Linked DNA regions of Homo sapiens. The protein of the gene in region 1 binds, or shares a complex with, the protein of each later gene. Each region holds a gene or a part of one and is shown on either strand. Other genes may lie near its edges.

Evidence for each region. Proteins that work in one complex are often made in the same cells at the same time.
Region 2: BUD13 (region 1) and ARMC7 share a complex: the UniProt entries of both Homo sapiens proteins name them as parts of the minor spliceosome.

What each region holds. Positions count from the first base shown.
Region 1 is NC_000011.10:116,755,966-116,762,987, forward strand, and holds part of BUD13 (BUD13 homolog), read right to left. Parts: coding exon 6,588-7,022; intron 4,988-6,587; coding exon 4,770-4,987; intron 3,215-4,769; coding exon 3,109-3,214; intron 2,443-3,108; coding exon 2,304-2,442; intron 1,986-2,303; coding exon 1,801-1,985; intron 1,263-1,800; coding exon 1,181-1,262; intron 1-1,180. UniProt on the Homo sapiens protein: Involved in pre-mRNA splicing as component of the activated spliceosome. As a component of the minor spliceosome, involved in the splicing of U12-type introns in pre-mRNAs.
Region 2 is NC_000017.11:75,106,076-75,112,990, reverse strand, and holds the start of ARMC7 (armadillo repeat-containing protein 7), read right to left. Parts: upstream 2,842-6,915; 5' UTR 2,703-2,841; coding exon 2,612-2,702; intron 2,529-2,611; coding exon 2,385-2,528; intron 1-2,384. Other genes in the region: SLC16A5 (monocarboxylate transporter 6), read right to left, coding at 2,842-3,256. UniProt on the Homo sapiens protein: As a component of the minor spliceosome, involved in the splicing of U12-type introns in pre-mRNAs.

The DNA of each region.
Region 1 (7,022 bases):
TGGGAAATCGAGGCAGACAATCATATGAGCCCAAGAATTCAAGACCAGCCTGGTCAATGTGGCAAAACCTCGTCTCTACTAAAAATGCAAAAATTAGCTGGATATGGTGACACATGCCTGTAATCCCAGCTACTCAGGCCACTGAAGCATGAGAATTGCTTGAACCCGGGAAGTGGAGATTGCACCACTGCACTCCAGCCTGAGCAACAGAGCAAGACTCTGCCTCAAAAAAAAATAAGAGTGGTTGGGCATGGTGGCTCACCTGTAATCCTGTAATCCTGTAAGCCTGTAATACCAGCACTTTGGGAGGCTGAAGTGGGCGGGTCACCTGAGGTCAGGAGTTTGAGACCAGCCTGGCAACATGGTGAAACTCCGTCTCTATTAAAGATACAAAAAATTAGCTGGGTGTGGCAGCGGGCGCCGGTAATCCCAGCTACTCGGGAGGCTAGGGCAGGAGAATCGCTTGAACCCAGGAGGCAGAGGTTGCAGTGAGCCGAGACTGCGCCACTGCACTCCAGCCTGGGCGACAGGGCGAGGCTCCATCTCAAAAAAAAAAAGACTGTAAAAGGGTCCTGAGATTAAAAAGTTTAAGAATTATTGTGCTAGATACTAAAACAATGTCCTTTAGTAGGCAAGAGGAGATGGGATCTAATATGTGAGTATACAAACTGACTTTGGATGGAAGCAAATATTCATCCATCATAACAGGAAGTTAGAGTACGTGGGTACAGATGTTGGTAGGTAGACAGATGAGGTGGGGTAGAGGACTGGAAGACATTAAAAGTGACTGCCTCCTAAAACCATAAAGTGAATAAAGATTCAGAGGCTACATTTTAAAGATATATCAGGTAGAAGGCTCCAGACTACAACTCATCACTCAACCCCTCTAAACCTTACAAAATATCATTAAAAGTAACCAATGTCCAAAACAAAGGGTGTCTTATCTGAACCACCTGAGGTGTTTGTCCAGAGCTTTAAAAAGTATTATGAAAAGGAAACAGAAGGAGGAGTGTTCCAAGCATGAGAAATAGGATTTGTGGACCTCAGAAAAAGAAGCAAGCAAAGTGCATATTTTTCACCTTGTGATTAAAGCAGAGAATGAAATAAAGTGTGGAGCAACTTACGAGTGGTTAGGGAAGGTTACAGTCAGGTAGAAAATGTAAGAAATACCCAGGCTTACCTGTCCACTCCGTCCCAGCGATATCCAGGCCAGATATTAAATCTGTTGGGAGGAGGTGCTGGACCACTGTAGCGAGGTCTCACTAATGAGAGGAGTAAGAAAAAAGTATTCAGTTAATGACATAGTTTAATTCAGAGCTGGATGGCAATGTGGAATTTTCCTTTTTTTTTAGTAGAGTCTCACTCTGTTGCCCAGGCTGGAGTACAGTGGCACGATCTCAGCTCACTGCAACCTCTGCCTCCTGGGTTCAAGCAATTCTCGTGCCTTAGCCTCCCAACTAGCCGGGATTACAGGCGTGCACCACCATGACCGGCTATTTTTTTTTTTTTTTTGTATTTTTAGTAGAGATGGGGTTTCACCATGTTGGCCAGGCTGGTCTCGAACTCTAAGGTGATCCACCCACCTCGGCCTCCCGAAGTGCTAGGATTACAAACATGAGCCACTGCGCCTGGCCTGGAAAAATTTTTATATAGAAAGACCAATTGAGTTGAATCTAAACTCACAAATACAATGAATTTAAATTATTTGGGAAATCCTTCTTTGCATATAGCTATGTATCAGCATCCTAATGATTCTCTCTTCACAAGTCACCTCCAGCTGATGATTCCCAGAAGTCCCACCTTTTTTATTCTTGTTCTCCTTGGCCTTATTCTTCTTGATGAAGTTGGCCATAGGGTCCCCCTCTCTTTCCTGTTCTCTTAGCATCCTATCCAGATCTTCGTCATCAATATAGCGGGCCAGAGGCTTTTGCATCTCTTTCATTGCATCCTCCACATTTTGTTGCTGTTGCCGGCTCTGGGCAAGCCTGGGCAAAAAGGAACCAAGAGTGTTTGCTATCCTGTATGACATTTCCACTTCTACACGAGATGGACCATACTGCTAAGTTTGGACAATCTCCTCTTTCTAGTACCCTAGGGCAAATACTGAGCAGGGTAAAATTCCCAGAATACCCACTAGAAGCGTGGAATATATCAATATCCTAGGAAGAAGATTCAGCACACCAAATTTCCCATTACTGATAACAGCTCTGAAGGCATAATAAGAAAGTGAGTGATCAGAAGAGCAGAGAAATGACTTGTTCCAGTCACTGCCATCTTGTTTACCCTTTCAGTGGTTCCCTTACCCTTTTCCCCACTGGGCATACAGCTCATCTCTCTCTGAGTCCTTTTCTGCTTTCCTCCTTTGCTCTAAACGTTCGAGTTTCAAATTCCTCTTACGACCAGACTTATCTCGAAATACGGTTTCAGCATATTGAAATTCAGCTGCAAAGGAAAATTATACTCAAATATCAGGATCAAAATCAGAAATAACATTCTAAGAGATCAAATCAACCGCTTGGGATTCTAATGCTAGATAAGAACTTCTGCAGCCAGACCAAAGTAGTTCCTACCAACATCTTGGTGCATATTGGCACTGGGCCCAAGAAATGGCATTTTCCTTTTTTTTTTTTTTTTTTTTTTGAGATGGAGTCTCACTCTGTTGCCCAGGTTGGAGTGCAGTGGCGCGATCTTGGCTCACTGCAACCTCCACCTCCCAGGTTCAAGCGATTCTCCTGTCTCAGCCTCCTGAGTAGCTGGGATTACAGGCATGCAACACCATGCCTGGCTAGTTTTTTTTTGTATTTTTGGTAGAGACAGGGTTTCATCATGTTAGCCAGGCTGGTCTTGAACTACAGACCTCAGCTGATCCACCCGCCTCGGCCTACCAAAGTGCTGGGATTACAAGCATGAGCCACCGCGCCTGGGCGAAATGGCATTTTTCAAGAAGGAAAGAAGCACTGGGATTCACTGAGAAATTACAACAATGCATAAAACCAGAGCTGAAATTTGATAGCAATTAAAAGTTCAAAATATCAGGTACAATAAGCTAAATTAAAAAAAAAAAAACAGTATGAGCCTAAATTGGTCTCTGCACTTTCATATTTTTACCTTCAAATGCCATGGTTTCTTGATCCTGTTCCTTGAGCTCCTGCTGTTCTCGCTGTATGTCAGTTAACACCAACCCAGTTTTAGCCCCAGAATACATGTGTGCAGCCTATGCAACGGAAAAGGGAGCATCCAACATTAATGAGATGATGTGACAGTAGGCTCCATGGGTACACAGTTAGTTGCATTTGTGTCTAATGACCAGCAATAATTAAACCTAAAACTCTAGCTTTATATTCTCAATAATTACCATAGGATTCAAAAACTATAAAAGAAAACCATCATCAAAACCATCAAGTTTAAGAATAAGCAGAAACACTAACAATATATTAAATGGAGGGCTACGCATTTGTATTTCTGACTTTTCAGTATATAAACTGCACACATGAAGACTATCTCAGGTCATCTGATCAGAAACCAGTATAAAGCACTAAGCCTTCCATTAGAGACCCATACTGATAAAATATTCCATTTACAGTACAAACTCAAGCAAACCTAAGATCCTTAAATTGTGGATATATTTCATGGTAATAACAGAAGATCTAACAAATGAAAACTTTTTGCTAATTTCCACTTAGCATCAAGATAGCAAATCAGCCCACGAATGAAGCACACAGTATATCTTGATATCCTTCAGCAACGAAATTGGAATAATATTAAGTTGTCCATGAACTAAATGGATATATAAAATGCCAAGAGGTCCAGCTGAAACAGAGACCTCTTTTTTCCCTAAAAAAGAAGAATCTCACTTCCTGGGTAAAGAACAGGCTGGTCTACCCTGCCAGGACCAGTCTTCTCAGAGTCTTCTACAGACAAGATTTACCTGATAAGTCTGCACTGGGGAGAAAAATGCACATCACAGGCTCTATCATTCTGTTTCTTAACCACTTACAAATAAGATTCCTTTACTACTACCAATGTTCTTTACAATATAATTACTCAAGGTTCATATGGATTTTGGGGTTTTTTGGCTAATTCATCAAGCCTTATCATGAATTTAAAACAAACCATTGACTTCTCAGACAACATGATTTCTAAAAGTGGTTTCATATTTTAAGTGCCTCTCCTTAAGCTCTGGATACAGAGACCTATAGTCCAATTTATACTAGTAAATCACTAACACTAGATGCTTACTTTGTCCCAGACACTGTGCTAAGAGTTTTACTTACACTGGCTTAATTATCATAACAACCTTACACAGTAGGTACTACTATTATCCACAATTTACAGATAAAGAAACTGAGGTTTAGAGATATTAAGCATCTTGCCCAAATCTCACAGACAGTAAGTGGCAGAAGGAGAATTTCTGTATGTGATCCGTTTGACACAATGCTTGTGCTCCAAACTTCACTCTGCAAATTACAGTCCTCGGTTTATTCCTAAGAAAATAGGAAGTTTTTCTAGACCTGTTAAAATGAGATTGTAGAATTAAGAGGCTATAAACGCAGAAGCTACTTGGGAAATCTGGTATCTGTAAGTCCATCTGGGATGGGTTATAGCCAGTTTGCCTTCAGAAGGAAAGACCTCCAAAGGTCCTTTTAACTAAGATTTACTACACTTCTCAGAGCTACATCCTTCTTCTTGGCTTGATTCTCTGGGACATATATAAAGCTGAGAGAGAAGAGTCACACGAAAAGAAGGACATGGCTCCTGAAAATCCTGACCTTCTTTCCAGGAGGCTGACTCCTTCGAGGCGGGGACAGGTCAGAATCAGAAGATTTGGTCCTCTGTCTCCTCCTTGGTGGAGAGAGGTCAGAATCAGAGCTCCGGTGTCTAGGTCTATTCCGTGGAGGTGACAGATCTGAATCAGAATCCTGGTGCCCTGGACTTTGTTTATGCCGTGGAGAAGAAAGGTCTGAATCAGTTGCTTTCTGGCAGTCACCTGGATAGGAGCAAAGAATCTGTGTGACTCTGATGTCCTCTAGGTGAAGAACTTACATGAAATCTCCTATGGCTGGGAGAAGAACCTAGAAATTAAAGAATTCCTTACATTATTATTATTTTTTTTTTTTTGAGACAGTCTCAGGCTGGAGTGCAGTGGCATGATCTCAGCTCACTGCAACCTCCGCCTCCTGGGTTCAAGCAATTATTGTGCCTCAGCCTCCCAAGTAGCTGGAATTACAGGTGTGTGCCACCACGCCCAGCTAATTTTTGTGTTTTTAGTAGAGATGGGGTTTCGCTATGTTGGCCAGGCTGGTCTTGAACTCCTGACCTGAGGTGATCTGCCCACCTCGGCCTCCAAAGTGCTGGGATTATAGGCTTGAGCCACCATGCCTGGCCAAAGAGTTCTTTAATCCCCTTGGAAGAATCTAAAAAGATAACTTACCAAGCTAATGTACAATATTTATTTAGTTTTCCTATGAAGAATTATCATTAACCTAAACATAAGTATGGATGGCACAGGAGAAGAGCAAAGTCAGAAACAACTTTTAAGACCAACAGGTAGAATATGGCATTCTATTCCCAAGTGACCACTGACTGTAACTGGTGTGTAAAATCTCCACACACTCCTCTATGTCAGTAACCCCACCCATGGAAAGACAAAATAACTTGTAGTCAGCTCTCCATAGTGTGGCAAAAGTCAGAAATACCTGGAATATAGTCTGATATCCTTGGACTAAAGGATAACAAAGTACTTTAATTTTAAAATTAAAATAGTTCCTAGGAACAAAAGAGGGAGTAAAAAATTTCACTGCACAGGCCTAAGTTCTAGCGACTGTATAAGCATCACAAGTCACCTCCCAAAGGGCATTCTGCAATATGTATCGACAGTCTTTAAAACGCCCACATCTTCTGACCCAGTACATCAACTTCTCAGCTTTCTAGGAAACTTATATAGAAGTAGTTGAATTTCGAGGAAATCTATCTAGAAGTAGATAAGGAAATAATCCAAAATGGGGACAACAGTTTATGTACAAGGATGTTCATTATAGAATTACAGAAGAAAAAACTTAGAAATAACCAAAAACATTCATTATTAGGAAAATGGTTAAATTTGTAATTAAACACTATTAAAAATTATACTAACATAAAGATGTTTTATGGCCTGAGGAAGACTACGTTAAGAAAGGACAGCAGGCAAGATTGCACATGCAATACAAATGTTCTACACAGCCAGAGCTCAACTATATAAAAAATGCAAACCAAAAAAGACTAAGATGACCCTGGCCACAACACTAACAATAATTGCCTCTGAATGACAGAATTTTGTGTCACATTTTATCTTTATATACTTCTGTACATTCCAAAGCTTCTGCAACAAATAAATTGTACTTTTATATGGGGTGGAGCGAGCACATAAAAAGACATATGAAAACCTTCCTCCCTGCCACCATAATTGTTCAACTCTCCCAAACCCAGCCTCTCACTTTTCAAAACTTTCCCAAAGAAATTCCATTCTTATACCTAATAAATCAACTAAACGGCCAAAAGAAAGCTCCCAGGGATACATACATCCCTCTCATGGACAGTCATATGCTCACCTTTGGAATCAAGCTGCTTCTTGTCTCCAAAATGGGATTTTGCTTGCTTTTTTCGTGGAGGAGAGATGTCAGGGTCATACTCATATTTGCTGTTCTTTGGGAATGACAAATGGGAGGCTCCTGACTCCTTCCAATGTGGAGAAGTCTTGCTAGAGGCTCTTTCTGGGGCTTTACCACTTTTGGTTCTGGGCAGGGAATAAGTGACATTAGGAGCCAAATCAGGGGAGTCATGACGGGCCCTTCTGAGTTGCTGTGTGTCTGAAGAGCCAAGAGTCCTCCTAGATGTGTCAGGGGAGTTGTTATGGACCCTTCTGGGGGAAGAGATATCTGAGGAACCATGACGGGCTCGCCTAGGAGGAGAGGGATCTGGTGAATCATGACGGACTCTCCTAGGAGATGCACCTGAAGAATTATGCTGAGGCCTCCTTGGGGGAG
Region 2 (6,915 bases), on another chromosome or scaffold:
TATCAAGACATTCAACCCAATTTCTGGATTATAGGAAATAAAGGGGATAAAGAAACCACAAAGAGGCAATGAGACAAACCGGAAGGGGGAACATTTGCATTCCTGGTTGGGGCCTTCGAGAATCAGTGTTATGAAATGAGGGTCTGTTTAGGGTTACAAGGGATTTATTTCTTGGGGCCAGGAGTTCGAGACCAGTCTGGGCAACACAGTGAGATCCTGTCACAACAAAAAATTAAAAAAAAAAAAAATTAGCTGGGCATGGTGGTGCACACCTGTAGTCACAGCTACTCGGGAGGCTAAGGCAGGAAGACTGCTTGAGCCCAGGAGTTCAAGTTTATGGTGAGCTATGATCACACCACTGCACTCCAGCCTAAGTGACAGAGTGAGACCCTATCTCAAAAAAAAAAAAAAAAAAAAGAAAAAGAGAATAAAAAGAGAGATTTAAGATAATTTATGTAGTGACTTCCTTCCAATGGGTATCATACGTAAAGAGGGGAAAGAAAGAGTAATTTTACAGTGGAGAAGCCTGACAAGACTTCAGCCAGGTGACTACGCGCGTGTTGGCCAGGCTGCAGTGCAGTGGCTATTCACAGGTGCAATCGTGCAATCACAGCACACGACAGCCTCAAATTCCTGGGCTCAAGCGATCCTCTTGAGTATCTGGGACTACAGGTGGGCACTGCATTGCTTGAAAAAGGAATTTTTGTTTGTTCTCAAAATTTTGTTTGCTTCAAACTATTTCCCACGGCCTAGATCTAAACTCCTGCAAGCTCTGGTGCCACTGAACTCTCTAAACTCTTTTTGTGCCATTCTCCACTTCACTGCAACGATCCTCCCACATCAGCCTTCCGTCTGGCTCCTTCCTGTTTTAAGGCCTTTGCCCATGCTGTGTCCCGGCTAAAATGCCTTTCTCATGATGGCCAAAACTGAAGTAACCCCCACCTTCCACTGCTGTCTCTCATCACCCCATTTACTTCCTTCTGAGCATCATCTTTTTTGTTTGCTAACCACCTGTCCCCCCTACTAGAATGTAAGCTCCTGAGGGGCAAAGACCTTTCCCTAAGCTGTTCACCATACTCCAGCATTTAGAGCAGTAGCTTGCATATACGGTACACGCGCAATAAATATCTACCCAGTGAATAACTCAATAGGTCTTAAGATCATAACAACTACAGAAGCCATAAGTTACAGACTGCAAGCCATCTCTGCTTCTCTTGATATGAAAACACTAAATATGAGTTATTTTTGTTTTTGAGACAGATTCTCGTTTTGTCACCCAGGCTGGAGTACAGTGGCCCAATCCCAGCTCACTGCAGCCTTGACCTCCCAGGCTTAAGCAATCCTCCCACCTCAGCCTCCTGAGTAGCTGGGACACCACGCCAGACTAATTTTTTTTTTTTTTTTTTTAAAGCAGAGATGGGGTTTTGTCATGTTGCCCAGGCTGGTCTTGAACTCCGGAACTCAAGTGATCTCCCTGCTTCGGCCTCACAAAGTGCTGAGATTAAAGGTGTGAGCCACCTCACCCGCCTGAAATTGCTTTTTTTTTTGAGACAGAGTCTCACTGTTGCCCAGGCTGGGGTGCGGTGGTGCCATCTTGGCTCACTACAACCTCTGCCTACCGGGTTCAAGCGATTCTCCTGCCTCAGCCTCCCAAGTAGCTGGGATTACAGGCGCCCACCACCATGCCCGGCTAATTTTTGTATTTTTAGTTAGAGATGGGGTTTCACCATGTTGGCCAGGCTGATCTTGAACTCCTGACCTCAGGTGATCCGCCCACCTCAGCCTCCCAAAGTGCTGGTGCTGGTATTACAGGTGTGTGCCACCGCGCCCGGCTACAAAACTGCTCTTTTTAAAACATATTTTTTTGAGACATGGTCTCACTCTGTCGCCCAGGCTGGAGTGCAGTAGCACAATCTCAGCTCACTTCGGCCTCTGCCTCCCAGACTCAAGCAATACCTCCTGCTTCAGTCTCCAGAGTAGCTGGGCCTACAGGTGCACACCACTGTGTGCGGCTTTTTTTTTTTTTTTTTTTTTTTTGAGACGGGGTCTCACTCTTGTCCCCGAGGCTGTGGTGCAGTGGCACGATCTCAGCTCACTGCAACATTTGCCTCCTGGGTTCAAGCTTCTCCTGCCTCAGGCTCACTAGTAGCTGGGATTACAGGCACTCTCCACCACGTCTAGCTAATTTTTGTACGAGACGGGGTTTCGCCATGTGGGCCAGGCTGGTCTCGAACTCATGACCTCAGGTGATCCGCCCGCCTTAGCTTCCCAAACTGCTGGGATTACAGGTGTGAGCCACCACGCCCGGCCCCAAGGACTCACTTCTAATTCACTTATCTCACCCTGGCCCATTTAGGCATCTAGGGAACGGGCCCCGCCCTTACCAATAGCAAACTCCACCAGGGTCTCATTCTCCTCCGACAGCGAATCGAGAAATAAATCCAGGACCTGCAGCTGCCGCAGATACTCGTAGTTGCTGGGGTCATAAGCGAAGTTGGCGAGGTTGGCGAGGACTTGCTCCTTGGCGTCTGCAACGGGAAAGCGGCACTGAAGCCAGGTCCGGGCGGCGGTCACAGCGGACCCTGCCACCTGATCCCACCGTGGCTCTCACCTTGGCTTTGGGTCTCCTGGAATTCCGTGACCAGCGCCTGCAGGTATCCCAGCCGCCCGACGTGGGGGTCCACCTTCGGCTTCTGGGCCATGGCCGCGGTGACGGAGGACCCCCAGGGACGGGCGGGAGGGTGGGAAAGGTGCAGGGGGAAAGCCGAGCGAGACCCTCACCCGCTCTCCACCTGTCTGGAGAGGGAAGAGGGGGTCGGCAAATGGGTTTCTTTCCTGGGTTCAGATTCTGCAGTAATTTGCAGCTGGAAATGGGATATGGGAGATGGGACGGGGTCTCAGAATCCTGTAGGAGTTGCGTTTGAAAATCGAAATTGGGGCGCGGGAGACAGGGAACCGTCTACTGGTTGGGGCTCGCGGAGGGGGCACTGGCGCACCGTCCCCGGCTCCTGGGCTCGGTTCCGGGCTCCCGGCGGAAGCCGCGCTGTCCCTACCCCCGAAGGGGCGGGGCCGTCGCCGAACTCCTTGGCGCGCGTGCGCGGCGCGCTTCTGGTTTTCTGGATGCCGAAGCTCTTTAGCCTGTGCTGGAACCAGCGGCGAGCGGCTTCGCTGAGGCAGGTGCAGGCGTGGGTGGGTGTACTGCGAGGAGCAGCCTGGCCTCCCGTATCCCATGTCCAGATGCAAATTACTGCAAAATCTGAACGCAAGAAAGAAACCCACTTGCCGCCCCCGCCAACAGATGGGCGAGTGAGGGCCTCGCTCGGCTTTCCCGCCCCACCTTTCCCACTCTCCCGCCGGTCCCCCGGGGTCCTCCGCCGTCCCGACATGGCCCAGAAGCCGAAAATGAGACACCCATGTCGGGTGGCTGGAATTCCGCCAGGAGCAACTCAGGAGCGCAGCAGAGTCTGGCAGCACCCATGTTGGAGGACGTCGAGGCAGAAGCACCTCCAGGGTCCCCACGGCTGGCGGGGGCGCGGCCCATCCTCCTTGACCAGGACGCCCCTTTGGAGCGCGGGCGTCAGCTCCTTACGCCCCCCATCAGTCCTTTGCCCCTTTTGCAAAAAGCCTAGCGACCCCGACCCGCCCTCCATCCCAGCCCCGAGGTGGGTCCGCCACCTCTGGACAGAAATCAAAGGGTACTGGGTCATGTCCTGGTGCTTTTTGTCAGCCGGGTGGATGGCGCGCGCCCGGGGCAGCACGGGGGAGCCCGAGGAGGAGCCTTGATTGTGGCGCTTTCGGGGCTTTCTGGATGCTGAAGCCCTTCGGCCGATTCCTTCTCGGAGATTATCAGGAAGCGGGTGTGTGATAGATTGCTCGTGGTTACAGGAAACAAAGCACCAGGGAAGGAGGTGGTCTAGCCACACTCCCATCGCATTTGACAACGTAGGGGTAGAGGTGGCTTAGGCTGTGAGTGTCCTGAGAGTGCAAAAGTTGTTAATCTAAATGGAGTCACTTGTGTTAAAAAACAGAACAAAAAAACCCGGACACAGCCCAAGAAACCCATGACAAGAGGGTTCTCGTGCATAAATACCTGATAATGAAAACTATCACAAAGACTCTGCAAAAACCACAACCTTGCACAAAGGGCGTCACAACCTTGCACAAAACATACTTTTGAATGGCCATCTGCCCAGCAACCGCTTGTCCAACCTTGAGCGGTCACCCTTGTTATTAATCCTTCTACCTAAGGATAAATATTTCAAAACAATTATGTAATCCTATTTTTTCCCTTAAAGCCTGTCTTCCTTTACCTCCCTGAATACCCATATAGTTTACTATGGCATGGATACTACCATTGCAATGCCCTATGCCCAAATAGATATCATTTTCTTTGAGAGAGCCTCTCTGTTATTTAGGCTGACAAAGGCAAGGACCATTATCTTAAGCCCTGGGCCCGGATGAAGGCAGAGTGGCCGTCACACTCCAGCCAGCTGCAGCCCCATTGGAAGCAGGCCTCACCTCTGAGGTTTCAGGTCCTTGTGGTCAGCCCCTGCCCTATGTACACCCTCTGAGGCAGGAGTTTCTAACTTAGTCTGGGTACCTAGGCCCCAGGACCCTCACCAAAGCCCTTTGGCTTCTCTTGGGAGCCTCTGCAGCCTGGGAAGTGCATCTTACCCCTAGGTGCCCAAGGGGTTTCTCTGCCTCTTGCTGGACAGAGCAGCAAATAGGAGCCCAGAAACAGGGAGGATGGAAGTAAGCTCCATCCCTCCCTGCCCAGGAACTGCCCCAGACCTTCTCTAGAGGTTCGCAGGCAATCAGCTAGATGGGGATTGCTGAATCAGATGGGCCACCCCATCTTCCCTCATTGGTCTTCTCCCTTTTTTTCTTTTTGAGATGGAGTCTCGCTCTGTCGCCAGGCTGGAGTACAGTGGTGCGATCTCGGCTCACTACAACCTCCGCCTCAGATTCAAGTGATTCTCCTGCCTCAGCCTCCCGAGTAGCTGGGATTACAGGCACGCACCACTGCACCCAGCTAATTTTTGTATTTTTTTTCTGAGACAGTGTCTCGCTCTGTCACCCGGGTTGGAGTGCAGTGGTGCGATCTCAGCTCACTGGAAGCTCCGCCTCCCAGGTTCACGCCATTCTCCTGCCTCAGCCTCCTGAATAGCTGGGACTACAGGCACCCGCCACGACGCCCGGCTAATGTTTGTATTTTTAATAGAGACGAGGTTTCACCGTGTTAGCCAGGATGGTCTCGATCTCCTGACCTCGTGATCCACCCGCCTTGGCCTCCCAAAGTGCTGGGATTACAGGCGTGAGCCACTGCGCCCGGCCTAATTTTTGTATTTTTAGCAGAGATGGGGTTTCACCTTGTTGGCCAGGATGGTCTCGATATCTTGACCTCGTGATCCACCTGTCTCAGCCTCCCAAAGTGCTGGGATTACAGGCATGAGCCACCGCACCCAGCCAGTCTTCTCCCTTCTTAAGGCCTCAGGGAGGGGCCCTCCTTGGGGTGGAATTCTCAGCCCTTGGTAGGTCTTACCTCTGCCCAGTCTCTGGCACACAGTAGATACTCAGTAAATATTTATTGAAGGAATTCTGCCCAGAGATGATTGCTATTCTTGCCTAGGAGCAGGTGAGATGAAAGTTTCCTATGCAGAACATTCATTGATACCTTTTTTTTTTTTGGGAAGGGGGGACAAGGTCTCTGTCACCCAGGCTGGAGTGCAGTGGTGTGATCACAGCTTACTGCAACCTTGAGCTTCTTGGCTCAAGGGATCCTCCCACCTCTGCCTCCTGAGTGGCTTGGACTACAGGCCTGTGCCACCATGTCCAGCTAAGTTTTAAATTTTTTGTAGAGATGGAGGTCTCCTTATGTGGCCCAGGGTGGCCTCTCAAGTGATTCTCCCATCTTGGCCTTCCAAAGTGTTGGGATTACAGGCATGATCCACCACACTTGGCTTTTTTTTTTTCCCTTTCCTTAATTTTTCTGTAGAGACAGGGTCTCTATGTTGCCCAGGCTGGTCTTGAAGTCCTGGTCTCAAGCGATCCTCCTGCTCTGACCTCCCAAAGTGTTTTTTTTGTTTGTTTGTTTTTTGAGACGAGTCTCATTCCATCACCCAGGCTGTAGTGCAGTGGCGTGATCCCAGCTCACCACAACCTCTTCCTCTCCAGTTCAAGCAAATTTCCTGCCTCAGCCTCCCAAGTAGCTGGGATTACAGGCGACTGCTACCACGCCTGGCTAATTTTTGTATTTTTAGTAGAGCTGGGGTTTTGCCATGTTGGCCAGGCTGGTCTTGAACTCCTGACCTCTAGTGACCCACCCATCTTGGCCTCTCAAAGTGCTGGGATTACAGGCGTGAGCCACCACACCCAGCCTTTTTTTTTTTTTTTTTTTTAAAAAAAAGACAGGGTCTTGCTGTGTTGCCCAGGCTGGCCTCAAACTCCCAGGTTTGAGTGATCCTCCCACCTCAACCTCCCGAGTAGCTGGGATTACATGTGCGCACTGCCATCTCCAGCTGATATCTTTTTTCTTTAAATGTTTTCAGGAAGTGGGCTCATTACGGGATGCACACAAAACCTGGTGGATACTAGCACCAAAAGCACCTATCTACCAGCCCCACCTCCCTCCTTTTCCATTCAACTGAGATGGAGCAGACAGGATTTGGCAAAGTCCATGCAAGCACTCTCCCTTCAGAGCATGTGGTATTGATGGCAGCCAAGTGTAAGACTGGGTGGGGAGCCAGAAGGAAATGGAGTCGTCAGGATGCTCACCGAGTCAGACTTTTCAACCGGAAGAGACTAGCTCATCCAAACCAACCTCCTACGTTTTCTTTTTTAAAATTAAATTTTATTATTTTGCTCTAACAAAGTAACCTCCTACTTTTTCAAGGCTCAGAGGTGGTCAACAATTTG